6 linked regions of the Homo sapiens genome follow. The protein of the gene in region 2 purifies or fractionates together with the protein of the main gene of each other region. This does not show direct contact. Each region holds a gene or a part of one and is shown on either strand. Other genes may lie near its edges. The genes, in order: SS18, FLI1, SMARCA2, DPF2, SMARCC2 and PHF10.

The links.
Region 1: the proteins of FLI1 (region 2) and SS18 purify together in Homo sapiens (affinity purification with western blotting, with the first as the bait; one study listed by BioGRID). This does not show direct contact.
Region 3: the proteins of FLI1 (region 2) and SMARCA2 purify together in Homo sapiens (affinity purification with mass spectrometry, with the first as the bait; one large-scale study listed by BioGRID). This does not show direct contact.
Region 4: the proteins of FLI1 (region 2) and DPF2 purify together in Homo sapiens (affinity purification with mass spectrometry, with the first as the bait; one large-scale study listed by BioGRID). This does not show direct contact.
Region 5: the proteins of FLI1 (region 2) and SMARCC2 purify together in Homo sapiens (affinity purification with mass spectrometry, with the first as the bait; one large-scale study listed by BioGRID). This does not show direct contact.
Region 6: the proteins of FLI1 (region 2) and PHF10 purify together in Homo sapiens (affinity purification with mass spectrometry, with the first as the bait; one large-scale study listed by BioGRID). This does not show direct contact.

The regions. Positions count from the first base shown.
Region 1 is NC_000018.10:26,021,114-26,024,613, reverse strand, and holds part of SS18 (protein SSXT), read left to right. Parts: intron 1-3,500. UniProt on the Homo sapiens protein: Appears to function synergistically with RBM14 as a transcriptional coactivator. Isoform 1 and isoform 2 function in nuclear receptor coactivation. Isoform 1 and isoform 2 function in general transcriptional coactivation.
Region 2 is NC_000011.10:128,767,072-128,770,571, reverse strand, and holds part of FLI1 (Friend leukemia integration 1 transcription factor), read right to left. Parts: intron 2,455-3,500; coding exon 2,300-2,454; intron 1-2,299. UniProt on the Homo sapiens protein: Sequence-specific transcriptional activator. Recognizes the DNA sequence 5'-C[CA]GGAAGT-3'.
Region 3 is NC_000009.12:2,021,847-2,025,346, forward strand, and holds part of SMARCA2 (SWI/SNF-related matrix-associated actin-dependent regulator of chromatin subfamily A member 2), read left to right. Parts: intron 1-98; exon of another isoform or gene 99-271; intron 272-3,500. UniProt on the Homo sapiens protein: ATPase involved in transcriptional activation and repression of select genes by chromatin remodeling (alteration of DNA-nucleosome topology).
Region 4 is NC_000011.10:65,336,852-65,340,351, reverse strand, and holds part of DPF2 (zinc finger protein ubi-d4), read right to left. Parts: intron 1-3,500. UniProt on the Homo sapiens protein: Plays an active role in transcriptional regulation by binding modified histones H3 and H4. Is a negative regulator of myeloid differentiation of hematopoietic progenitor cells. Might also have a role in the development and maturation of lymphoid cells.
Region 5 is NC_000012.12:56,161,859-56,165,483, reverse strand, and holds the end of SMARCC2 (SWI/SNF complex subunit SMARCC2), read left to right. Parts: coding exon 1-166; intron 167-752; coding exon 753-1,181; intron 1,182-1,718; coding exon 1,719-1,795; 3' UTR 1,796-3,125; downstream 3,126-3,625. UniProt on the Homo sapiens protein: Involved in transcriptional activation and repression of select genes by chromatin remodeling (alteration of DNA-nucleosome topology).
Region 6 is NC_000006.12:169,707,501-169,711,000, reverse strand, and holds part of PHF10 (PHD finger protein 10), read left to right. Parts: intron 1-609; coding exon 610-765; intron 766-3,500. UniProt on the Homo sapiens protein: Involved in transcription activity regulation by chromatin remodeling. Belongs to the neural progenitors-specific chromatin remodeling complex (npBAF complex) and is required for the proliferation of neural progenitors.

The sequences.
Region 1 (3,500 bases), on a different chromosome or scaffold from region 2:
TGGGGGTGGTGGCTCACGCCTATAATTACAGCACTTTGGGAAGCTAAGGCAGGAGGATTGCTTGAGCCCAGGAGTTGAAGACCAACCTGGGCAACAAAGCGAGACCCCCACCTCTACAAAAAACTAGCCAGGCATGATGGCATGTGCCTGTAGTCCCAGCTCTTCAGGAGGCTGAGGCAGAAGATTGCATGAACCCAGGAGGTCGAGGCTGCAGTAAGTTGTGATTGTGTCACTATACTCCAGGCTGAGTGACAGAGCTAATATCCTGTCCCCCCAAAAAAGTGCAGCCATCACCACCCTCTAATTTTAAAACATTTTCACCAGCCTGATAAACTGTATACCTATTAGCAGTCACTCCTCATTCCCCTTTAACTACTCAGCCTTAAATACTTAAATACTCATTCTGTAATTTCGTTTTCAAATATTTGGAGATTTTCCAGCAACAGTAGTTTACTTTCTATCTCTATAGATTTGCCTATTCAGTACATTTAAGATAAATGGAATCATACAATATGTGGAGTTTTGTGACTGGTGTTTTGTTTTTTTTACTTAAAATAATATTTTCAAGGTTCGTCTGTGTAGCGTGTATCAGTGTCTTCAAGTGATAGTATGCCTATACATAGTGTAAGAACCTTAAGGTAGTCTGCTTTTCTTCTCTTTGTGTTATTGTTACAAATTTTACTTCTGTATACGTTATAAACCCCACAGTGTATTGAATTTATTTTTGTCTAAAAAAATCAGTTAAAGATACTTAAATAATAAGGAAAAAAAAATTTTTAAATTGACCCATGTAGTTACCGTTTTTGGTACTCTTCATTATTTATGTATGGATTCATATTACTATGTGGTATCATTTTTGTTTGCCTGAAGGATGTTAACATTTCTTGAAATGCAGGTGTACTGGTAATAATCAGCTTTTGTATGTCTGAAAAAAATGTTTATTTTGCCTTTATTTTTGAAAGATATTTTCTCTGGGTATAGAATTCTAGGTGGACAGTTTGTTTTTGTTTTCTTTCCATACTTTAAAGATGCTCCACTCTTTTCTTCCTTACATTGTTTCCAAGGAGACATTTGCTGTCATTTATCTTTGTTCTTTTGTAGTTAATATGTCTTTTTTCTCTGTTTTTAAGATTTTCCCTTTATCAAATTGTTTGATTGAAGAAATTTCTCTCTTGCCCAAATTGTTTTGAGCAATTTGATGAGAGCATGCATTGGTGTTGATTTCTTCATGTTTCTTATGCTTGGAGTTTGTTGAGTGTTATCTCAGACTTTGTCATTTTCATCTCTACAAGTTTGGTTTAGGTCTTTTTAATATCTTCCGTGTCTGTCCTTAATTGTTTTGAACATATGGAATACAAATATAATTCTTTTAATATCCTCTTCTGCCAACTCTAATAATCTATGTCATTTTAGGGTCAGTTTTAATCAGTTTTTTTTCTCTGTCCTTTGTGTGCGTGATAATCTTTGATTGGATTCCAGACATTGTGAATTTTATGTTGGGTGATGAAGATATATGTATACCTAGAGATATTCTTAAGCTTTGCTTTGGGATTCAGTTTAATAAGTTACAAACAGTTTGAACTTTCTGAAATTGCTTTTAAGATATTCTAGGCAGGACAAAGAGCAGTGTTTAGTCCTGGGCTAAATACTCATCACTGATAAGGTAAGAGCCTTTTGGGTGTTTTGCCCAATGCCCTTTGAATTGTAAGGCTTTTTACTCTGACTGGTGGGAATAAGCACTGATTCTGTTCCTATGTGACAAACAAGTATTGTTTCCCCTAATCCTTTTGGGTGTTTCTTGCCTCAGCCCTGGGTATTTTCCTCACACATTTGCATATCTGTACTATGCTGAATAGGAGGAGGGTTCCTCTGCACATCTCCACAGTTGTCTCTTTAGGCAGATCTTTCTTGTAGGGTACTCTGTCCTGTTAACTCTAGCTACCTTTTTCTCTCCAGACTCTAAGCCTTATCTCCTTAAGTCAGAACATCTGGCAGACTCAGCCTCAGTTCCCCTTCGTGCACTGCAGACTGGAAACTCTCAAGGTAGTTAGCTGTGGTAGTCAGAGGGCTGGCCTCATTTGTTTACCATGTCTCAGGGATCATTGTCCTTTGTTGGCTCTGTCCTGTGTGTCCTGAATATGATTATCATATGCTTTGTGTAGTTTTTTTTTTTTTTATTGTTTCAGGCTGCCAGATAAATCCATCTTGAATAGAAACATGCATTAATTTTTCAACATAACATTTCTCTTCATTTGACAGATTATTTTGTTACTGTTTATTGTCATATTCTTCTTCCCCAAGAATGTAACCTCTTTAAAAGCATCGCTTTGTCTGTTTTTATTACTGTTGAGTCTCTGTCACCTAGTAGAGCACAGCACATAATCAGTAAATATTGGTGAATAAAGTATAAACAACTGAGTAAATAAGGCCACTACTTTCTAGATTTGAATGCGTGATCACAAGACCAGAGTTAAGAGGAAACCCCTAAAATGTTGTGAAGGAATAATGTTAAGATTTTAAACTGATTAGGTAAATAGAATGAAGGAAAGAAATGTAAAGATTTTGGTATTGCTCAGATTTCTACCTTAGGAACTCTTCTCATTCAATATACTCTCCCTAGGCATTCTCATTTATTCACAAGGTCTCAGTTCACCATGCTGTTGACTCCCAAATCTCTATTTATAGTCTCAATCTCTCTTCTGGAAATTAGATGCCTACTCGACAGCTCTGCTTAGATGTATCATAGGTATTAATTCAGCAGAAACAAAATAAATTTATAATTTTTTCTACCAAAACTTTTCTGTGTTCTTTATCAAAGAGAGGGGTACTATCACCAAGCTAGATTGCCAAGTGCCTGTTTGGTATTTAAGTGTCCCTGCTTTTCCTCCCTTGTCTAATAAATGACAAATGTTATTGATCTTCCTTTTTGAAAAGCTTTTGAACCCATTCATTTCTTTCTAACCTACACCCTTATCTTAGTTTAGACCATGTTCATCTCCTGTCTTCATCGCAGTAGGATCTTCCATACTGTCTTCTTTCCCATTAAAATTCTTTATACTGTAGTCAGAGGAATTTTTTTTAAAAATTGAAGAGCAAAGAGAGAGAAGGTGAGGCTTAGAGTGTTCAAGTGATTTACTCAAGATGACAGAATTCAGGAGTGGTGAAGCTGCATGACTACTGCTGAGTGCTGAAAGCCCATGCTCTGTTCACTGTACCATGCTGCCACCCATACTGTTAATGAGTACTTGAGTAGTTCACAGAGCATTTTCATGTTTTTCTTCTTGAATAACTTTTTAAAATAGAGATTATAATTACCCTTGTCAGATGATAAAATTGAAACTCAGGGAGGTTAAGCAACTTGCCCAAGGATAAGAAGCTGTTAAGTGGTGACGTTAGCACTAGAAATTGGTTTCTGGCTCCAAAAGCCGTACTTTTAATCCTTAATGCCACCTTGGAATTTGTTAATGGTTGCAGATACACAGCCTACCTTTTTAGGCATG
Region 2 (3,500 bases):
TCTGGATCATGCTAAACTCTTCCAAATGCATTTCCTGGATGATTTAGTCCTAGTTTCTTCCCATCTGAACATGGAGCTAGTGATTAACTAGGGCCCACATTTATACTTGTCTTTAAATCCCATCATAAATTCAATCGGTTATTCCACTAATATTTTATTGCCTTGATTTGTGGACTTGCCCAAATGAGACTTCCCCTCATATCCACAGCCTGGCCTGGAGGAAGCCAAAATGTGTGAGGACCTAAAAGATCTAGCCGGAGCTAAAATAATGAAGTAAATCCATAGCCTGAAAGTGCTTTGAAAATCATTTGACATGAATTTGTTTTATTTTCACCACCAGCGCTATAGGTAACTTGGCTCAGCCAAGCCTGATGTTTTGCTATTCCTTTTGAAAGCATTTCAACACTGATCAAAGAAAGTTTGGAGGGTCGACATAGCAGTCTGGCCACTTCTGCCCATTTCCAAGATTCCTTCCCCAAAATGACGACCAAAATGAGATGGTGCCAAAGGTTGGTTCAAAGACAATCTCAGATCCCCAAACCCTTCAGTCCAGCAAGCTTTCCCTCCCAGGCTGGGAGCTGTTTGACTGAAGCAGGGGAGTTTGAAACCATTTGAGTGAAGACCCAGTGAGGCTCAGCTTTGCTTTGGGCTGTACAAAGAGATTCCCACCTGTCAGTTCTAATACAGTTTCATTGTCTGCTTTCAGTGAGGAGGGAGACGATACACCTGGGCTAAACATTACTAGCTGGTCTCCTGTGACAGGTGTTTTAAGTAATGCCATGGAGATAAAGCAATTTACGTGGTGCCTGGCACCTAGAAAGCACTCAATAAATGGAAGTGATTCTTCCTCTTCCTTTGTTAGGTCAGATGCTTGTGGAAGAGCAAACTTAGAATTGCTTTAGGAGTCATTTCTAAGTCCTAAAGGGTACAGAGAAATTTCTACAAGCCCCACCCGTCTGCTGCCTCACTCTTGCTCACACCTTCTTGAATTTGGCCCAGAGCACAGGGAGGCAGCTGTAATCCAGGGATATGGTGAGATGCAGCTTCCCAGGGAAAACAAACACCACGGGCCAAGGCAGGAGGCAGCCCTTAACATTTCTGCCTTTAGACCTACAAGCAGATGCCTTCGGACTACCTCAAAGAGATGTCTAACCTTTTGACTTCAGAGGCAACTACATTTATGCTTTTACAAATGGAAGGAGTTTTGCCTCTCTGGTAAAGTTATTTTGGTAAGATCAGGTTTAATCCCTGCCCTGTAATCACTTTGCTTAAGATTTGGACATCCTTGCCCCTTCTACCTGGCACCAGTTCTACACGTGGCAGTTTGTAAACACCCTTCTTGTGCAGGCAGCTGAGCTTGCTGGTGCTAGCTGGGGTGGAGTGTCCAGCCAATGGACTGAAGGACTGAACGATGATTTTATTTTCTGGGACCAACAGCACCAACACCTAGGAAAAAGAGGCTATTTTTACCTAATGACATAACTTGTGGCACACATGTTAAGGCACTCCATTAGTTAAATATAGTTCTTTCTATTTTAAAACTGAAAGAGCTGGCTGTAATTTTGGAAAGGTGGAACCTGGTAGATGCCGGGAAGTACGAGCCTGGAGGGAAGGACTGGCCTCTGCAGCTGACCTCCTCCTCACAGGCAGGGATGCCCACATCCAGAGCTCACGGGATTCCTTTTGGGTGGAGGCGGCCTTGCCTCTGCTCTCTGAGCAGCCCGTCCTTGAGGACCAGGCCATTGATGTAGAGTCTGTGATGTGGTCTGTTTAAGGGTGGGGCTTCTAGCACCCACACATCAGGTGACATCTGGGATACTGCCTTAAAGGGCAGCTAGGAAGTCAGGTAAAATGTGCAGCTTTTTTTTTTTTTTTTTTTTTTTGAGACAGAGTCTCATTCCATCACCCAGGCTGGAGTGCAGTGGTGTGATCTTGGCTCCCTGCAACCTCCGCCTTCCCGGTTAAAGCGAGTCTCCTGCTTCAGCCCCCTGAGTAGCTGGGAATATAAGCGTCCACTACCACACCTGGCTAATTTTTGTATTTTTTTTTTTTTTTAGTAGAGATGAGGTTTCACCACGTTGGCTAGGCTGGTCTTGAACTCCTGACAAGTGATTCACCCGTCTTGGCCTCTCAAAGTGCTGGGATTACAGGCGCGAGCCACCACTCCCGGCTGGCGTGCAGCTTTCTCCATTTTGCAATTCCACAGGGAATAGAGTATCAGATAAAGGTTTAGATGCTCCCTGCCCCCCCAGAGAGTGGGGAAGTGAATGGCGCCCAGGCAGCCTGGTTCTCGAATTACCTGCGGGGACGATGACTCTCCTCTCGTTGGTGGTCATGTTGGGAGGAGGGGGGCCATTCTTCTCGTCCATATAGCTGTTGTAGTTCATGGGGTTGGACTCGCCTCCGCCCACCAGCTTGCTGCATTTGCTAACGCTGCAGTCCACCGGAGACTCCCTAAAGTGAGAAGAGACAAAGCCCAGAGGCGGTCAGCACTGACAGGGCAGCTTGCCTCAGCCTCTGAATCATGAGCCCAGGGCTCCGATGATGAGCATGGAGCCATTGCCCGGCCACACTTGGTGTCATGATGATGATGATGCCCTCTTTCTATCCTCCATGCTGCCACCAGAGTTTTCTTCAAATCCCAGCCCAATCCTATAATTACAGTACGTAAAAACTGCTGGCAGCGCCTCAGTGCCCTCAGACCAAGGTCTGAGCTTCTTTGTGTGGCATCGCAGCCCTCCCTGTCTGACTGCAGCTTACATTTTTAGCCTCACTGCCAGGCAACCTAGTCCATGCTCCCAGACACGCCTTCCCCACAGTCCCCCAGCACTTGGTGCCCGCCTTGGTTATAAGGACTTGTCACACTGTCTGATTCTCAGCTTGGCCTGCGCCCCCTGACTGCTGAGTTCTTGAGAGGATAGTCATCACTTTCTTTGTTTAACCCTAGTATTCTTACAGGAGGTGAGCAGCAAATGCTTTCTCAGTGAGTTATTTCTATTGCACATATATAAGTTTAATGCATTTCTTATGCACTGTTGTATTCGAATTTCCCAATAAGCCCCCAGGATAGGCACAGCAAGGGTTACTATCTCCTTTTCATGGTTAATGAAATCGAGACAGGGGCTGCCTGGCTCAGTCACACAGCTAGTCAAGGTGGAAACAGGACTCAGGTCTTCTGTGTTAAGCTTCACTATCAAGCACACATGCAAAAGAGCTGGTTGCTACTTGGAGAAGGAATGGAGTCCAGGAACTTCCACCTGATGGAGAGGTGGTGGCCCTGTGGCATTTTGCATCCCTGGCCCCAAGCTCACTGTGGAAGCAGTATGGACATTCACAAGAGAGAAAGCAGATCATCCAACTTAGCCTAGAACTACAGAACTTGATCAGCACCTGGTATTTTGCAGCACTGGTGATGGGCAGCTGTCTGGAGGGGTGAAGTCCCACCCATGGCCACCTGGCGCCCTGAAGCTGGCTGGCAAACACACTCTGCATGCCCTCCA
Region 3 (3,500 bases), on a different chromosome or scaffold from region 2:
TTTCTTGAGCTGATGGGGTAGATAAGGTCTTTGAGATGGGATAAGGTTGCTGTAGGGGGAGGGCAGAGGTGGGGGTGGTGGCATCTGAGCATCCCAGATCAGAAGAAAGCCCCGAGATCACAGAGACCCGGCGAGATCACAGAGACCCGGCCTGAAGGAACGTGGAAAGACCAATGTACCTGTTTTGACCGGTTGCCTGGAGCAAGAAGTTCCAGTTGGGGAGAATTTTCAGAAGATAAAGTCGGAGATTGTGGAAAGACTTGACTTGCAGGTTAAAGCATGAATATTTTATCCAATCTGTATTGGAGGCTTGTCTCAGAAGTTTTGAACAAGGGAATACATGAACAAAGCAATATTTTAGATTAATCTGGCAAATTGTGGATTCAAGTCCAGAGTGGGAATTGAAGCTGTTAGAAGGATCCTGGCAATAATGCGAGCATATAGTAGCTCACAAGGTGTCTTCATATCTCATATTTTATTTGATTCGTATCAAAATTGAAGTTGTAGTCAGCTACTGTTATGCCTATTTTGTAGGTAAGGAGCTTGAAACTCAGAGAGGTTAAATGAACTCATTTGTTGATTTTTTAAAAGGCATAGTAACATCATTAATGGCTATTATCCATTTTAACTGCAATGAACTTGGAGTTCATTGTTGAATTGTTGTTGCTACTGTGAAAGTCAGGGCCAGTTGACATTAATGAGTGCCTATGATAGAACTTTAGTTCATTCAGCATATGATGGTTGAGTTTTACTCTTCAGTAAAAATGTGCCATTTTAACCACAGGTTTTTAAAGTATGTATTTCAGACTCTTCTTTTTATATGTTTAAAGTATAAATAAACTTATCTTGGCAGTCAGAAAAGGAAGTGGCTGTTGTTGATTCTTATCAACATCCAGAATGAGGTTGCTTTGCAAAAGGGCCTAACCTAGGAGAGACAGGCATATGTGTAAATATACGTGACATATTACCTTTCAGGGTGTCATGATTTGAAACTAACTTTTTTTTGTTCAGTTTGTTAGCTTTTGTTTTGACCAGTTTGCCCAGCCCTTTGGGTTCCACTGAATTTTAAAAGTGATTTTCATCTGTGATTACCTTTATAACTACTAATGGACATGAGTCTCAGAGTAGAGGATGCTTTGCTCTAAAGGGTTTCTAACACTTAGGTTTTCTCGTAAATTCCCTTTTTAAAACAATTTTTCCTTTGTGGGATCACTGTCAGTCCTCATGGAAGAGGCCATGAAATTGCATCGCTGGTAGACTCTTTTGAGATGGCAACTCATGGTATCTATAAGGGTGGTAATGTTAAGAGCCAGGATCCTATTAAGGCAGTGTCTGAGGTTCATGGGGGACTAATTAGCTGCTGCCGAGTTTGTTGTTATCTTTTGTTGTGCACAGAGCTGCCTCACAGCCTTTGCCAGGTCTGACTCTGGGCAAGGACCATTCCCAAGGCAGTTTATTTAAAGTGAGGGTAGCAGCTCACCCACATCCTAATTTGTTGCCCTGATTGAAAGATGAAGGAGAGTTCACAGAAGCCCAAGGAACAGAGCAAAGTTTTAATCTAACAACTTTTAAAAAACATATTTGACTTTGAAACGAATGGGAAAGTGTTGTGAATAACCCCAAGAATGCTGAAGAAATGTTCTCAGTGATTTTCTAGGGTCTTGATGGAGCAACTTATAAGGTTAACTTTAGAACCCGGTGTGATTTGTATCTGACAGATCACATTATGCATTGTTTAAAGTTGCACAGCTCAGACCAAGAAGCAGTGTGGGCCTTGGTAATGTTTCACCGCTTATCCCGACAACCTTGGCCTGTAAAAAGGAAACTTCGGGTAGATTTATTTCCTTTATCTGCATTGCTGTTCTCCTTACCCACCCCGCACTGCTTCCCCATTAAGAATAACAGTGCTTGAGGCCCAGTTCTGAAGATGTTGCTACTTCTTGTGGGTGAATTATCAATTCATTTACAGAGAAAGCCACATACAAAACAAGAGGCAGCCCTTCAGGTCAGGGGAGATGTTCTGAATCAGCAAACAGACATAAAAAGAACTCTTATCTTAACTATCTCCTGAACCTTGCAGTTCTCCTGTAACAGCCAGAACACTTTAATAAGACTGGGATATTCTTGGAGATGTGGACTGGGCCTAACTTTTATTTCTGATATTCCACCTTTAACCTGGACCTCCAAGTTTTTCTGTAAAGTGAGCTGTGAAAAAAGACAGGCTGGAGATCCAAGATTTCCTTGTGCTTTCTTATGAAGTTTGGTGAAGAGCAATTTAAGAGATATTGTCAAGGTTGGTGTGCTGCCCCAAACTCTGCGACTAGAAACCAAAAGTTTCTAGGGAACTTTTTTTCTTTTTTTTAAACTTGAAGGCCTTGCTGAAATGCTACCTTCTCCATTACACTTTACCTAATTCCTTTCTCTCCTGTAACCTCTGAGCTAAAGGTAATGTCTCCCATTCTATGACTGTGTTGGATAGTTTGGCTGTACCCCTCCGTGTCCTGCAGGATCTTTCAATATTTTTATCTTGTTGCTACTTACGCACAAGTCTGATTTCCGTATCAGACTTCCAGAGTTGTGGGGTAAGCCTTCTATTCATTTTTGTACCGCCTGCATGCCTTGTACCTAGTAGATACTCGGTATGGTAACTAAAACATCATCGACCTTTTCAGTTGATGACATGGTCTTCTTTTCACATTCCAGGGCTTCTCTTTACTTCTCTAGCCTGTGGTAAGTTAATATATTATCACAACCAAAGCCTAGTCCTTGCAAGATATCCCTTCCACTGTTTCTGACCTTTTTTTCTTTGGCTTCTACTTTCTACCCCTGCACATTGCTCTGGCCTGGTGAAAACTCTGGTGGAAACATGGCTTGCTAGATCCGTGTCATAGCTCAGTGTTGGGCTGGGAGTCAAGGGATAAAAGATTCTGCCTGCGGTTTCTCTCCTGTTGCAGATGTTACTTTGGGCAAGCCATGTTTTCCCCTTCTGCCTTATTGCCCTCATCTTTTCAATGGCGTTGTGGCAAAATGTCTCTTCAAATCACCAGAATTATTAGGAAACACATGTAGGTGTGTTCAAATATTACTCCACATGTGGGGGTCTTTGGTGTTTCTGTTGGTTACAATTAGACTGTAAGACACAAGTTTTGTCATGGTTGGAGTGGTGACCCTTAAAATTCCATGAAGTTGAACTCCTTTTAATATGCAGATGGCTGTGCTGAGCCTTTCAGCTAAGGGCAGAGGAGATTTGGGCTGAGGGAGGATGACTGTGGTGTTTGGAGCTCTGGCAAGCTCCTCTGGGGCCTCTTCTTTTTAAAAACACACACTCTCTAGTTGTGAATGTAGGAAAGTGGGAAGTAAGGACGAAATCAAGACAGAGTATACTGCTGAGAAATTCTTGCCTAAGAACATAGTGGTTTGGCCCTCGGGGAGTCCTGGTCTGGGGGAGGGTGGGGACCAGCAATGCATGTGTATGGGGAGGTTGCTGTGCCCCCCTCTCC
Region 4 (3,500 bases), about 63 Mb from region 2:
GGAGCGGGGGGCATAGGGTGCTGAGCTATTCCTCTCCCCTGCCATCTGCTTCTCTAGAAGGCTCAAGGGACTGGGTGGCTGTCTCTTCCGTTCTATTTGCCTCCACTTCTGCCTCATGGGACACGAAGCCCCTTTTCTAGGCCATCATGAGGAATTACTTTACAAATAAATTACCATCAGGAACACATGATTTCATCATATGTCTAATCAGACTTAAGTTTAACCCCCAAAGAGGTGAAAGAATGTTCACTCCACGTGTCTCACAAGCCCACCCCTGTGCTAGTTAAGATGCTATTTCTCTTAACCCTTATGAGGCTAAGAAGCAGATGATAGTCCCTCCTAAGTTCCTCCTTATTCCCTCTTTCCTAGAATCACCTCCCAAATAAACTACATGCTCCCACATCCTTGCCCCAAGGTCTGCTCCAGAGGGAAAGAGTTCAAAGTCTAGGGGACTTATTAAAATGTATTTAGCAAACTATGGTAAATCCATACAATGAAATTCTACTTAGCCATAAGAAGGAAGCTCTTCACATACTGATATTAAACAATTTCAAGTTAACTAGGGACAAAAAGCAAAGCAAGGTACACTGCTGAGAAGCGTCAAATAAAACTATCATTTATGTAACAAAATGGAAAAGAAACTGCAGGTCAGCGGGGAGAAAAAGTGGGTGACTAGGCCACTTCCTTCCATATGCCTTTTTATATCTTTTGAATTTTGAACTAGGTTTTTAATCAACTAATTAATTTTACATTTATGGAAGATGTCTACAAGTACCTGAAGTTCCTTGAAGCTTTTATTGAGCACCATCACTCATAAGAAACTTGTTTGCTCTAAGGCCCATCTTAGGGTTCTTCTCCATTCTCACAAAATAAAATTATATAGGAAAAAATCTTCTTGGTCTCAAAAGACTCAATTTGAAATCTGAATCAAGGGTAAATCTTTAAGTGGAAAACTGGAAAACTGCACAGTGCCAGGAGTTATCTGGTTCTAAGAAGCGTGTATATAGAACCTATCTTGTTCTCATCTTGCAGGGTTTAACAAGGACTTTGGTAATGGAGGTTAACAAACTCGATCTTATATTCAATCAATCTTGTTTTTTTTTTTTTTTAAGAGACAAGGTCTCACTATGTTGCCCAAGCTGGACACAAACTCCTGGCTCAAGTGATCCTCCTGCCTTAGCCTCCCAAGTATCTGGGAATAGAGGCATGTGTCACAGTACCTGGCGTCAATCAATCTTAAACCAAGGGCAGAATTGATTTATTTCTCATAGTATCCCTAATACTCATGACGATGTCTGAGATACAGTCAGACTTGACTTGAGAGTAAAAAGACCTGGCTTGCCTGCAAGTCACACGAACATGGACACTTAGTCAGCCCAGGTGGACCTTGGTTACTCTTCTATAGATTGAGGAGGTTGGACCAAATGAGCTTTGACATATCAGGATTTTACAAGAAACAGCCTGGGGATGAGACAGCAAACAGATTAAGTCTCTGTGGTTTCTGTCCGTAACTCGGGCTACACCAACAAACCCTGCTCTAGAATGTGACAGGGTCCTTCAGTGAGCAGCCACAATAGACCACTGCATAACTTAGCATGTGCCCAGCAAGTAAAAAAGACACATACGACACACAGAGACGGCAATGCCACAAATATAGCCTGGCGTGATTCAATGAGCTGTAATGACTGTAATCTGAGGTAGGCACGAATCTCACGTTGGAGAGCAGAATGGAGAAGGCAGCCTTGCCTCTGTGGGCTCGCCTTTAGGAGGCAGCCACGTCTTCACCACACAGAATAAAATTGGATAAACAAGGTTGAGTGCGGCAGCTCCTTTGTTTCTGCTGATGGGAATTGATACGGACACTGGAAGTCAAATGGAAGGCAGGGCCAGGCTGGCGAGTGCTGCAAAGTCAGAGCAAGGAGGCTGGAAACAGTTTTGCGGGGAATGAATGAGAGATGTTCTGTCAGGGCTCTTGTGAGCTACATAAGGCAGGCAAACAGTCTTGGGGGTAAAAGGGCTGGGAAGGAAACACTGAAGTGTGGGGGGAGAATCTCATGAAGAGAGAACAAGACAGCATGACAGTGAGCTCTTAAGAACTTAAGGGAGGCCGGGCACAGTAGCTCATGCTTATAATCCCAGCACTTTGGGAGGCCAAGGCTGGTGGATCTCTTGAGACCAAGAGTTAGAGACCAGCTTGGGCAACATAGTGAGATCCCATCTCTACAAAACGTTAAAAAATAAAAATAAAAAAGGCCTGGCGCAGTGGCTCACGCCTGTAATCCCAGCACTTTGGGAGACTGAGGTGGACGGATCACCTGAGGTCAGGAGTTCGAGACCAGCCTCAACATGGAGAAACCCTGTCTCTACTAAAAATACAAAATTAGCCGGGCGTGGTGGTACATGACCATAATCCCAGCTACGGGGGAGGCTGAGGCAGAAGAATTGCTTGAACCTGGGAGGCGGAGGTTGCGGTGAGCCGAGATTGCGCCATTGCACTCCAGCCTGGGCAACAAGAGCGAAACTCTGTCTCAAAAAAAATAAAATTAAAAAAAACAAAACAAACAAACAAAAAAACCATCAGCTAGGCTTAGTGATGCATGCCTGTGGTTCCACGTAGCCCCTGGGGCGGATGAGGTAGGGGAATCATTTGAGCCTAGGAAGTTGAGGGTGCAGTAAACCAAGGTTATACCACTGCACTTCAGCCTGGGGGACAGAGGGAGGCTCTGTCTCTTAAAACAAAAAAAAGCAATAACAAAAACTTAAGGCTCCGATACCAAGAAATGTCAAGTTAACATTAACATTGTTCTCTCTCTCTCTCTCTCTCTCTCTCTCTCTCTCTCTCTCTCTATATATATATATATATATATATATATATATTTTTTTTTTTTTTTTTTTTTTTGAGATAGAGTCTTGCTTTGCCGCCCAGGTTAGAATGCAGTGGTGCAATCTCGGCTCACTGCAGCTTCTGCCTACTGCAGCTTCTGCCTCCCGGGTTCCAACGATTCTCTTGCCTCAGGCTCCCGAGTGGCATGCGCCACCACGCCCAGCTAATTTTTGTATTCTTAGTAGAGACAGGGTTTCACCATGTTGGCCAAGCTGGTCTCGAACTCCTGACCTCATGATCCGCCCACCTCGGCCTTCCAAAGTTCTGGGATTACAGGTGTAAGCCACCGCGCCCTGCCTCTAGATTTTGCCTAGAAAGTTTCAAAACCAATCAGCAGCTACAGCTATACTATTATTTTACTTTCCTAGTAAGAACGCTTAAAGACTTTCTCTCTTTTTTTGAGACGGAGTCTCGCTCTGTCGCCTGGGCTGGAGTGCAGTGGTGTGATCTCTCCTGGGTTCAAGCGATTCTTCTGCCTCAGCCTCCTGAGTAGCTGGGACTACAGGTGCACGCCACCATGCCCAGCTAATTTTTGTATTTTTACTAGAGACGGGTTTCACCACCTTGGCCAGGCTGGTCTCAAACTCCTGACCTTGTGATCCGCCCGCCTCAGCCT
Region 5 (3,625 bases), on a different chromosome or scaffold from region 2:
TCTGTAGTCCCTGCTCCTGCTGGCAGTGGGGCCCCTCCAGGAAGTTTGGGCCCTTCTGAACAGATTGGGCAGGCAGGGTCAACTGCAGGGCCACAGCAGCAGCAACCAGCTGGAGCCCCCCAGCCTGGGGCAGTCCCACCAGGGGTTCCCCCCCCTGGACCCCATGGTAAGTGTTATGTTCCAGAACTTTTGTTGGCTAGAGGAATCCAGGTGAATGTCCCAGTTCTCCTCAAAGGGGATACAAGATGAGTGTGGAGATGAGGTTAGCCTCAATTTCTACAGATGGGCCCATCTCTCTTAGGCCCCTAAATCAGCAGGAGTCCTTCCCCAAACTCGAGAGCTTTGGAATTTTATTCACTTACTCTAGTGTCAGAAAAGGGGAAGATAGTGCCAAGGAATGGCTAGATTATCCTTGTTTGTAAAAGTGAGTTATTCTTTGGGAGGCCGAAATGGGTGGATCACGAGGTCAGGAGATTGAGACCATCCTGGCCAACATGTTGAAACCCCGTCTCTAGTAAAAATACAAAAATTAGCTGGGCGTGGTGGTGCGTACATGTAGTACCAGCTACTCGGGAGGCTGAGGCAGGAGATTGCTTAAACCCGGGAGGCGGAGGTTGCAGTGAGCCAAGATCGTGCCACTGCACTCCAGCCTGGTGACAGAGTGAGACTCCGTCTAAAAAAAAAATAGAAAAGGTGAGTTGTTAAGCAAAATTTTATACCTAATTTTCTCCATCTCTCATCTTTATTCTCAGGCCCCTCACCGTTCCCCAACCAACAAACTCCTCCCTCAATGATGCCAGGGGCAGTGCCAGGCAGCGGGCACCCAGGCGTGGCGGGTAATGCTCCTTTGGGTTTGCCTTTTGGCATGCCGCCTCCTCCTCCTCCTCCTGCTCCATCCATCATCCCATTTGGTAGTCTAGCTGACTCCATCAGTATTAACCTCCCCGCTCCTCCTAACCTGCATGGGCATCACCACCATCTCCCGTTCGCCCCGGGCACTCTCCCCCCACCTAACCTGCCTGTGTCCATGGCGAACCCTCTACATCCTAACCTGCCGGCGACCACCACCATGCCATCTTCCTTGCCTCTCGGGCCGGGGCTCGGATCCGCCGCAGCCCAAAGCCCTGCCATTGTGGCAGCTGTTCAGGGCAACCTCCTGCCCAGTGCCAGCCCACTGCCAGGTGAGAAGGGGCCAAGAGGGGAGAAGGGTGAGGGAGAGGGGTCCACCTGGAGGGAGGGTGAGCGGGCAGGTGGGGAAGAGGTCAGGTATTAGAGTTTCCACAATCCTTTTTGAACACTCTGGTAAAATTAGAATACAGGAGGAAGGGCCTCTCTGGCCGTCCTCCACCATTCCCCAGCCTGGCAGCTGCCACCTTTGGGATGATGTTGGGGCCTTTCACTGGTGGGTCATGGAGCAATCCTGTGGCAGAGAGCATCTCAGTTGTAAACTTGAAAAGCAGCTGTTTGCATGATGATTGAGTGGCATCCCTTTGCTTATTCCTATCACGTTCAAATGCCCCATATAGAGAGTCTTTCTATATGTTTTTCTGAGTATGAGGTAGAAAAGAGTGTTGGGAACAGAAGTTGAACATTATGGGTACCTCATTCATCCACCCAGCCACTGCATGCCATGCCCGGTTCTGTCTGTCTGTGGTGGTCTGGGTCTGGAGCCATCTCTCCGGCGTACTCTAACTGATTTATCTTCCTTTTCTCCACAGACCCAGGCACCCCCCTGCCTCCAGACCCCACAGCCCCGAGCCCAGGCACGGTCACCCCTGTGCCACCTCCACAGTGAGGAGCCAGCCAGACATCTCTCCCCCTCACCCCCTGTGGACATCACGGTTCCAGGAACAGCCCTTCCCCCACCACTGGGACCCTCCCCAGCCTGGAGAGTTCATCACTACGTAAGGAAAGCTCCTTCCGCCCCTCCAAAGCCCTCACCATGCCTAACAGAGGCATGCATTTTTATATCAGATTATTCAAGGACTTCTGTTTAAAAGATGTTTATAATGTCTGGGAGAGAGGATAGGATGGGAATGCTGCCCTAAAGGAAGGGCTGGTGAAAGGTGTTTATACAAGGTTCTATTAACCACTTCTAAGGGTACACCTCCCTCCAAACTACTGCATTTTCTATGGATTAAAAAAAAAAAAAAAAAGTAGATTTTAAAAAGCCACATTGGAGCTCCCTTCTACCCACTAAAAAATAACCAATTTTTACATTTTTTGAGGGGGAGTGAGTTTTAGGAAAGGGGAATTAAGATTCCAGGGAGAGCTCTGGGGATAGAACAGGGCGCAGATTCCATCTCTCCCCAAGCCCCTTTTTAGTGACTAAGTCAAGGCCCCAACTCCCCTCCCCCACCCTACGCTGAGCTTATTCGAGTTCATTCGTACTAATAATCCCTCCTGCGGCTTCCTCATTGTTGCTGTTTTAGGCCACCCCAGCTCAGCCAATGATTCCTTTCCCTCTGAATGTCAGTTTTGTTTTTAAAAGTCACTTGCTTAGTTGATGTCAGCGTATGTGTATTTGGTGGGGAAAACCTAATTTCGGGGATTTCTGTGGTAGGTAATAGGAGAAGAAAGGGCACTGGGGGCTGTTCTCCTTCCTTCCCTGGGCTGTATCCATGGACTCCTGGAAGGCACAGAGAAGGGAGCTATAAGAGGATGTGAAGTTTTAAAACCTGAAATTGTTTTTTAAAGCACTTAAGCACCTCCATATTATGACTTGGTGGGTCACCCCTTAGCTTCCTCCCTCTCCCACCAAGACTATGAGAACTTCAGCTGATAGCTGGGGGCTCCCCAGATGAGGATGCAGGGATTTGGGAGCAGTGGAAGAGGGTGCCCAACCTTGGGTTGGACCAACCCTTGGCTCGCAGCTCAACTCTGCTTCCCGCATTCCTGCTCCACGTGTCCCAGCTTCTCCCCTGTGACGGGAAGGCAGGTGTGACTCCAGGCTCTGCACTGGTTCTTCTTGGTTCCTCCCACCAGGCCCTTTGTTCCTCATGTCCCCATGTTTCTCTCCCTCTGCGTCTTAGCACCTTTCTTCTGTTCAAAGTTTTCTGTAAATTTTCTCTTTTTTTCTTTCTTTCTTTTTTTTTTTTTTATAAATTAATTTGCTTTCAGTTCCATCTTGTGGGTGCATTCTGTGTTCTTACCTGTGGCTGTCAGGCAGGGGGATTGTGATGGGAGCAGCTTTCCTGGAGTCCTTCACAGCGGCGTTTACCTGGGCCGAAAGACACTCTGCAAGCCACACGGCCTACAGACACTGCGCCTCCCCACAAAACACGAACGGCAGCACAACTGTCGAGACTATGTGCTGGTATAGGAGCAGAGGCTCTCACCTGCCCTAAAAGCTGTTTAAGACTTGGAAGGACATTCCCACAACATGGAATTTTGTATCTCTGTCCCTTCAGAAGTAGTGGTTTCACTCCTTCCCTTATTAGAGAGGAGGCAAGCCCCTTACCTACTTTTGTTATAATTGGCCCTTCACCCTGCTGAGGTGACGGACAGGCTTAGGCAGTGCTAATAATGGCCTGGCTTTAGCTCCAATAAACACTCCACAGGCTTCCCCACAAAAGGCCTTATTGGGAGCTTGGGAGGGCGGGGGCCAGATTTAAGGAGCTGGAAG
Region 6 (3,500 bases), on a different chromosome or scaffold from region 2:
TAAATTATAAAATGAAGAATTAAATGATCAGATACTGAGGTCTTAAACCTTGAATATATAAAATATTTCAGATCCTGTTGTAGATAGTTGAGGGATTGGCTCTGCATAGTTTAACATTGTGAAAACACAAATGTGTACTTGAAGGACTTTTTTTTTTTTTTCCTAACTGCAGCGCTTCATTTTTCCTGAAGGACCTTCTTAATGACTTTTAGTACTCAGTGAAAATACCCACACTTATTTGTAACAATATATTTTTGTATGAAACAAATATGTTCCCTTGTGACGGAAAATGATGTTGAAGCTGTGTGCCGTAATAGTAGCTGAAGCGGATAATTGTGTTTTTGTGACTTATGTCAGAAAACAAAGTTGATGAAGGCACTGATATGGAATCAGTTTTATATAATATACTTAGAAGAAGGAGGAATGATTTTTAACATAACTTACTTTAGTCTCCACTGGAAAAAGCTTTCTTACATTTAGAATGATCTTTTTATTTTTAAAATGATAAAGCTTTAAAACTTTCTTTGAATATTTTCCATAGTTTTCAAAATCCAGACTCAAATTTGTCTTAATTCCAAAGAATCTTTGTTTTTGCCTTTTAAACTCCAGGACAGCTCCTCTGGCAATGTATCTGAAGGGGAAAGCCCTCCTGACAGCCAGGAGGACTCTTTCCAGGGAAGACAGAAATCAAAAGACAAAGCTGCCACTCCAAGAAAAGATGGTCCCAAACGTTCTGTACTGTCCAAGTCAGTTCCTGGGTACAAGGTAGAAGAAAAAAGCCCCTGACTCAGCTTCTTTACTGACCAGCCTCTCCCTGAAATATTTTAACTTGACTTTCACGATTGTGGAGCTTCTGCCTGCTGTACCTCACTAGCTGTTCTTCTATGGTGTGCCCTTTGTCCGCTGCTTTCTTTTTTGCTTTATTTCCTTGGTGGCTTTTCTGTCACTTTTGGCTATGGTTTACCTTCTGTTTTCTGTATATGTACAATTTATAAGTCTTTTTTTTTCTTTGAAAGAATAACCAGGCAAGTATGGGTTTTTAAAACATTATTTCATAGGCAGAAGTTTATATTTTCTTTCCTTGGAGTAAAGATCATAATTATTTGGCATTTTAAATGCCCCAGCATTTAGTGTAGCTAAAGCTGCTGAGCTATAAAGTATGAGTGGATATACTGTTAGACTAAGTTGCATTTTTTTTAGTGCCTTTCATTAAGAAAGATCTGGGTTTAATCTAAGGATTATTTGATCCATATGCTAAATTTAGCTAACTCTGGGATAGAAAATAATAAAACCTGTTACTTACATTGTAGTGATTTTTAGCATAACCTTGGTAAAGAGCCTATATGATTCTATGGCAAGAATTAAAACATACTTGTTAACTTGTTGATCTGATTATCCTCAGAGTAAAGGAGTAGGTTGTCAGCAACTATTATTATATTTTGAACTTTTCCTCCCTCTGTCTGCCCCTCCCTTTTCTTCTGAAGAAAAGGTGAGGTGAGAGATGAGTAGCCTTATTTGCATATAGGGATTTAAGAATATCATAAAAGGAAGAATTAGCTGTACAGTTTCATATTTGGGATGGTGGTAGTAAAATAGACTACCTTTTGATTCTTTTGGTCTGAAATGTATTAGAACATGCTTTTATTGCACTTATGAAGGTGTATTGAAGGAAAATTTTAGAGTAAGCTGATGAGAAAGTTTTGCCAAGTGAAATTGTTAAACACCTTGTATGTCAGAACTGTGATTGTGGTAAATAATTCACAAGAACAGGCTGAAGTAAGTCACCTTTCCCTCAAACTAACTAGAACACGTTCTAACATGTTCATTTACCTTTCTTCAAGTAAAAAAAGCGACATTAAGTTAGTGTATTTCATATTTTATTAGGAAATGCTTTTATGTAATTAACTTAAAAATTCTTTTTTTTTTTTGTAGCCTATAGCAAGCAAATTTTAAGCTTAATTCAGCAAGGGTTGGCTTCCAAGGGTGGCTGCAATAGGCTGCAGCTATGTGATTTTTGTACTTGTTTTTACATATATAGCTTATGTAATTTCTTTATATAAATTAATGCTTAATAACTGAAAGCAAGTGAGCTCCAAAGATGAAATTTCAGAAGCAGTATACATGAATGAGTGTGTTCTACTGGTCTGCTAAGAGCTTTAAATGGAAGTGGCCGCTCAAAGCACAGTGTCCTGTTAACTCTTGAGTGCTAAGTAGATCTTTGCAACAGTAAGCTTGATTGATCATGGGTTAAAAAGAGAGAATATTGAAATAGATGTTTTAATACAGGCTGGAAATCAGCTATTCAACACTATCATTGATTTAGTATACAAGAAATCATATGGATTAACTGAACTTAATAGTACTCAAGTAGGATATGCAAAATTTATATTTTACATAATCTGTGAACATTTTTAGTACCTAAAAATGTTTCAGGTATTTCAAAGATGGGAACAACCAGTATCTAGTCATCATACATTAATGTGAACATGCTTATTAAAAGTTAACCTCTTTATAAAAAGTATTAATAAACCAAGATGTGCCTAAATATTAGGGTACTTCAAGCTAAAGGTCATAGTTTATATATAAAAAGTACGAGATTCAAGGAAGTAATGTATCTGATGCTTTGCTTAATAAGATTCACTAGTGCTTGCCCTTAATTCATAGAACAGTATTGTTTAGGTTACATTAACCTGAAATTTAAAGCATAATTATTAGGATTCCGGCCTATAAATACAATAATTAAAATCTATACTATATTATTGCTACCATGAAAGTCTTATCTTTGGCTGTTTTTCAAGTAGAAAAGTAAGTGTACTGTGAGCCTTTTATTTGAGATGCTGAGAGCTATTAGGATGAGTATTTCAGTTTTCTTGTCAATAGTGATACTCTGATGATGTTGCAGTTATTTGAAGTAGAACTGATTGTCTAAACCAGACACACATAGGAGTGTGCTCCATTGGTCTTGTGGAGAGTGCTGCACATTAACCCCTCCCTCAACTGTGCAATCCACTTGAGACTGGCTTCTCTAAGCCACAGTTGTTATCTGCTGTGTAAAGTCCTGGATGCCAGCACTGTGGCTTCTTAGAGAGGGCAGATGCTTTGTATATCGAGCTGCAGCATTCATCGTAGAAAATGCTACAAAGCTGTCTCTCTTCCCCTTCTCTCATGTTTCCCTCTTTTCATCAAGATGAAGGCTGTTGGGTAAGAAAAACTAAGTGATTTAACAAATCATTATGATTTAAACTTAGAAATAAACCTAGAATTTTTTGGTGTCCCTTTTATCATAGGTGTTTAATGTATATTTTAATGATTGTAGAACTTGAATTGCTCTAGAATGTGAATGACTACCCTTGTGTTTTACTCCTTTTGGCTTTTGTTTTGTAAAGAATCTCCTGTGAGGAGTTCTGTTTTTAGAATTTAATATTGTTTGGTTACTTCCCTGACTTTAGTGAAAGATATTAGAGTATTTACTATGCCAGTATCTAACTTAAACTATTAGT